Linked DNA regions of Homo sapiens. The protein of the gene in region 1 interacts with the protein of each later gene in a pairwise test. Each region holds a gene or a part of one and is shown on either strand. Other genes may lie near its edges.

What was found. The genes of interacting proteins can lie anywhere in the genome.
Region 2: the proteins of C22orf39 (region 1) and DTX2 interact in binary tests that used the Homo sapiens proteins (3 or more experiments, as listed by UniProt).

What each region holds. Positions count from the first base shown.
Region 1 is NC_000022.11:19,440,352-19,442,674, reverse strand, and holds the end of C22orf39 (synaptic plasticity regulator PANTS), read left to right. Parts: 3' UTR 1-980; coding exon of another isoform or gene 981-1,031; 3' UTR 1,032-1,789; downstream 1,790-2,323. UniProt on the Homo sapiens protein: Negatively regulates long-term potentiation and modulates adult synaptic plasticity. Stabilizes the interaction of RTN4 isoform A/Nogo-A with its receptors, inhibiting clustering of postsynaptic AMPA receptors at synaptic sites.
Region 2 is NC_000007.14:76,478,623-76,482,282, reverse strand, and holds part of DTX2 (probable E3 ubiquitin-protein ligase DTX2), read right to left. Parts: intron 1,863-3,660; 5' UTR 1,774-1,862; coding exon 1,506-1,773; intron 1-1,505. UniProt on the Homo sapiens protein: Regulator of Notch signaling, a signaling pathway involved in cell-cell communications that regulates a broad spectrum of cell-fate determinations.

The sequences.
Region 1 (2,323 bases):
ATTGCTTGAACCCCAGAGGCAGAGGTTGCAGTGAGCTGAGATCGTGCCACTGTACTCCAGCCTGGGCGACAGAGTGAGACTCTTGTCTCAAAGATAAAATAATAAAATGAGTTTGCAGCCTGCATGTGATGCCTGGGATTGCAGCAGCTGCCTTCAGGTTCCTGGGGCAGAGCTGGAGAGTGCAGCAAAAGCCAGGGCATGCCAGCCAGCACCCCAGTCCATGAGGGGCTTCCCCTCAGTGCAGCCACGCTCCCTGCCACCTGCTTGTTTAGCAAGGTATGCATTGTGCGGCTGCATGCTCTGTTAGGAAGCATTAAGTCCTGCCTCTGTAGTGTGACTATCATGTTTTGCCTCCTCCTTCACTACTCAAGTTCCACATCAACAGATAATCTCTCTGGACAGGATGTTCCTGCATTTGTTTCTATGTCAATTGCTTCACAACATCTGAGTGTCCACATGTTGGACAGGGTTTGAGGCTTATAAGACCACAGTTTTGAAACAGACAAGTTGTCTTCAAAGAGTTTCTGTTGTAGTTTGGGTAAAAGACAGACATTAAACATCAATAAATAGGAATTTAAAACGGTGGCTGGATGTGGTGGCTCACGGCTGTTATCCCAGCACTTTGGGAGGCTGAGGTGGGAGGATTGCTTGAGCCCAGGAGTTCGAGACCAGCCTGGGCAACGTAACAAGACCCCATCTCTACAAAAAATAAATGAGCTATGCATGGTGGCGTGCATTTGTAGTTCCAGCTACTTCGGAGGCTGAGATAGGAGGATTGTTTGAGCCCAGGAGTTTGAGGCTGCAGTGAGCCATGATTGTGCCCCACTGCACTTCAACCTGGGTGACAGAGCAATATCCTGTCTCAAAATAAATAAAAATAAAATGGTGGTAATTTCTGAAGCAGTTTGGTATTTTATGGTGGTGGTATGAAGAAAACAAATACTGTAATAAGAGCAATATCTTTCAAACTTTTTGGACAGGTGCTAAGTGTGGTGGCTCACACCTGTAATCTCAGCTACTTGGGAGGCTGAGGCAGAAGAATCACTTGAGGATAGGAGTTTGAGGTTGCAGTCAGCTATGATCGTGCCACTGCACTCCAGCCTGGGCAACAGAGCAAGACCCCATCTCTAAATAAATGTTTTAAAAATAAAAATAAATGTTTTGGATAAAACCCCATATTAATAATAAGTATTTTACATTATTATCTGGCATAGACTGTTATATATAGCATATTATTGTTGAAATACAAAACAATATGTATCCGTACTGTATGTGATATAGTGCCATTTTCAGTAACTGCTGTACACACAGCAACTCAGATGAAACTCAAGGAAATTCTTCAGAGCAAAAACAGCCAATCTTGAAAACATACATGTAGCAGGATTCCATTTATGTAACATTGGTGAAATAATGTAATTATAGAGATGGAAAACAGATTAAAGGTTACCAGGGGTTTAGGTTAGGGATGGTGAGGGGGTGGTTCATACGAGGGAGTCCTGTGGTGTTGAAAACCATCTGTCAGCCTGACTGGTGGTTACACAGGGCTATACATGAAGTTAAAATTGTGTAGAGTTAGGTACACAAAGGAGTACAGATGTAACTGGGGAAACTGAGTATGTTCTGTAGACTGTACCAATGTCAATTTCTGCGTCCTGATGCTGTGCTGTAGTGTATAAGGTGTTAACATTGGGGGAGGCTGGGGCAAGGGTACCCAGGACCTCCCTAGACAACCTCCTATGCAACCTCCTGTGAATCTATAATTACTTCAAAATAAAAAGTTGAAAACAAACTGTCGGCCATGACCTACCAAACTGATTTTACAACCTAACAGATGAAACCTACTGTTTAAAAAAAAACACTGCTATCAAGCACCTGTGCTGGACACTTACCTTGGGCGGGGAGGTGGGGAAGGCCTCAGTGTCTGAGCCCAGACCTGGGTGAAGAGGCTCAACTCCTGTCAGGCAGAGAAAGGGACCCACAAAGGCAAAGGGACCTGACACCATGTTTTGACCAGAGCGGGTGCTGTGAGCTGTGATCAGGAATCTGGGTATGCGATTCTCTGGGTGGCAGGTAGCCAAAGACCTGACCTGACCTGGTTCTAGAGACCTCTGGCTGCTGTGTGGAGAAGGGATGGGGTGGTTAGATCAGTTGGCCACTGCAATAGAACAGGCAAAAACTGACGATGACGTGGACCTCAGAGGCAGCAGTGGAGGTCATGAAAAGTGGTTCCATTCAGCATTTGTCTCAGGTGGGGCCAAAGGACTTAGAATCCTTAGGCAACATTTTTATCCAGGACTGATAAGAGTTTTAAAACGAAGTTTTT
Region 2 (3,660 bases), on another chromosome or scaffold:
GCTCAAGCGATCCTCCTGCCTTAGCCTCCTAAATAACTGGGACTACAGGCACATGACACCACACCCAGCTAACTTCAAATCGACCTCTACAACACCTGCCACTTTCATTCCCCGATTAACACTTCCTGCTCTCTGCCACGATATGCAATTTCCATGTTATTATTTATCCTGTCTGCTATCTTTCTCAGTTGACTTCACACACTGTGAAGGCAACGACTTGGGAGCTGACTGACAGCCACAGTTTTCACAGACTCTACGACACTCCTGGAAACACATAGTTTCCAGGGCTGGGCATGACGGCTCGAGCCTGTAATCCCAACACTTTCGGAGGCCAAGGCAGGAGGATCACTTGAGCTCAGGAGTTGAAGACCAGCCTGGGCAACACAGGGCAATGGAGACCCAGTCTTTACAAAAAACAAACAAACAAACAAACACGAAAAAAAAAAACCCATACTTTTAAAAATAAAACTAAAATTAAAATTGAAAAAAAAAAGGAAAAACCAGTTTTTCAAGTTTCCTCACTGGTGACACTGTGGGCCAATAATTCCTTACTGCAGGGCCAGCCCAGTGCACTGCCGGATGGCGAGCAGCATCCCTGGCCTCCACCCACCAGATGCCAGGAGCACCCCCACCTCCCACCCACTCAGCTGTAACAACCAACAATGTCTCCAAACATTGTCAGATGGCCCCGGGGACAAAATCACCCCCAGTGACAACCACCAGATTAGAGTAAGGGATGGCTCCGAGAGGAAACTGGTGCCTCATTCTCAATAATACTGATCAAAACACACTGCAGGTCCAGGCGCGGTGGCTCATGCTTGTAATCCCAGCACTTTGGGAGGCCGAGGCAGGCAGATCACCTGAGGTCAGGAGCTCGACACCAGCCTGGCCAACGTGGCAAAACCCCGTCTCTACTAAAAATACAAAAATTAGCCAGGTGTGGTGGTGGATGCCTATAATCCCAGCTACTCGGGAGGCTGAGGCAGGAGAATCGCTTGAACCCAGGAGGCAGGGGTTGCAGTGAGCCGAGACTGCGCCACTGCACTCCAGTTTAGGCAACAGAGCCAGACTCCGTCTCAAAAAAAAAAAAAAAGATCAAAACACATCGCAGACCAAAAAGCAGAAACGCACACATGCAGAGGGGCGCAGTTGCCTGCCCAGGGCACACAGCCACTGAGTGGTGGGACAGGGCCCTCTGAACTCCTATGACGCACCACCTCCATGCCGGCCTGCCGGCCAAAGGAACCCTTCAACCTCTGTGGTCGGGACAGGCATTTCTGCTTTGCAAGACAAGGGGAAGGGCCTCCCACAGTGCCTCTCCCACTGTGAGCTGCACTCAACCTATGTGGATGTTCCCACTCACTGCACCCACCCACCACCACGTGTGCTGCAGGGAGAGAGCAGAAGCTCTGTAAGTCACGTCCATCACCCCAACACCTGGCGCAGAGCCTGTGGGAAAGCAGGTGCGGCACCCAGATATGTGCGAGAGGCAGACAGCGTCTTACCGGTGTCCTGGCGGAACTGGGTCCAGCTGGGGAGGTCAATAATGTAAGGGGCCAGCGAGGGGTCTGCCTGGCCCAAGGGGATGCTGTGGGCCAGGCTCCCAAGCCCAAAACGTTGGCCCTTCTGCTGGACAAACTGCTGCTCGATGAAGCTGCAGACGGTGGCACTGTAGGGGTGCCAGGTGCCCAGCCCGTCCTGCCATTCCCACACGGCCACAGCCGCGGGGCTGGTGTACACCTGCACCAGGGAAGGGCTTGGGGCCATGGCCATCTTCCCAAGGAGTCCCGCTGCTTTCCCAAACAGCTTCAGACCCCTCTGGCCTGGAGTCCCGGGGTCATTGCCCAGCGCCTCCGGCAGATCTGTGAACAGGACAGACATGAGCAGTTACCAATGCACATCAGTAGCCCTGCAGAATCAGCCTCAGCGCAGGGGAAACACGTGATGCTTTTCCACAGCTGATTTTTTTTTTTTTTTGGTTACAGGGTCTCACTCTCTCACCCAGGCTACAGTGCAGCAGTGTGATCTTGGCTCACAGCAGCCTCAAACTCCTGGTCTCAAGCAATCCTCACAACTCAGCCTCCAGAGCAGCTGGGACAATAGGCATTCACCACCACACCCAGCTCATTTTTTTACTTTTTGTAGAGATGATGTCTGTGTTGCCCAGGCTGGTCTCAAAGTCCCAGCCTCAAGGGATAGACTCGCCTCAGCCTTCCCAAGTGCTGGGATCACAGGTGTGAGCCACCGCGCCTGGTCTCACGCTTGCTTTTCTTCCCCTAACACCTTAAGGGCATCATGAATCAAGAACCTGATCCTGTCTCTTTGCTGTGGCAGCCAGGAAGAATTCAAAGTCAATCCCGCAGCCTACGTACCGCCGCACAGGCCCATGAAGAAAGAGAGCATAAATTCCGGGTGCTAGTCACCAGCCCAGCTTCTTTCTTGCTACTGATAATTCCCCTCTGACCCAACTGCTTAGTGTGTTTCATCATGCATGTATTTTTTTTTCTTTGAGATGGAGTTTCCCTCTTGTCACCCAGGCGTGTGATCTCGGCTCACTGCAACCTCCACCTCCCGGGTAGGTTCAAGTGATTCTCCTGCCTCAGCCTCCCGAGTAGCTAGGACTACAGGCATGCACCACTGCGCCCAGCTAATTTTTTGTATTTTTAGTAGAGACGGGGTTTCACCATGTTGGCCAGGCTGGTCTCAAACTCCTGACCTCAGGTGATCCACCCACCTCAGCCTCCCTATTAGCACCCACCATCCTGAAGATGAGATCCCAACATTTCTTGGAAAGGAGCAGGGTTTGGGACACCCAGGGAGCAGGGGCAGAGCTGGGAACTGCAGCACAGGTTCTAGCTCCTCATGTCTCCCAGGTGCCCTGAAGCATTGCTAACCAAAAAGGAAGCCCTAGATGGGCACCGAATCACCCCTCTCTGGCCTCTCCAAGGCTCTCTGCACCCACTCCCCGACCTGGCCCCTGCTGACCGGCCACCAGGCCCAGGGAGCTCTTCCCCACATCCCGAGCTCCACCTCCCGAGACCTTCTCCTTGCAGTCACTCCAGCCCACCCTCTTCCCTTGCGAACACTCCACGTCCTCCAGGCCCAGCTTGCATCGCTCAGGATGACCCATCACACGCCCTCTGCACCCTCCACAGCACCCACCAGAACCCTAGTAACCGCGTCCACGTGTGGCTGTGACCACAGTCCTTCTGCTCCTCCCCAGGTGGCAGCAACCCCAAGCCTGCTTCATTCACAGCTGCATCACCGGGACCCAGCAGGGGCATGCCACGTGGTGAGTGTTCTAGAATGTTCTACACACTGCTTCAGAATGACAGAGTGAATGTGGACAATGATTCCGCTCAGCACCTGGAGCTGTCTGAATAAGAAGAGGCCTGCAAATGCCCCACCTGATGGCTGCCCCCCAGGGCACCGGCTGTTGGAGTGCCGGTCCAGGGTCCAACATTTAGTAACCAACATCAAATGTACTTGTCTCTCCTAAGCTGCACAGACTGCCAAGGTGACATTTCTCCCACTTACGGACAGGAAACCAAGGCTGAAAGAGGTCAAGGGGACTGGGTGTGGTGGCTCACACCTGCAATGCCAGTGTTTAGGGAGGCTGCGACAGGAGGGTGGTTTGAGCACAGGAGTTTGAGGCCAGCC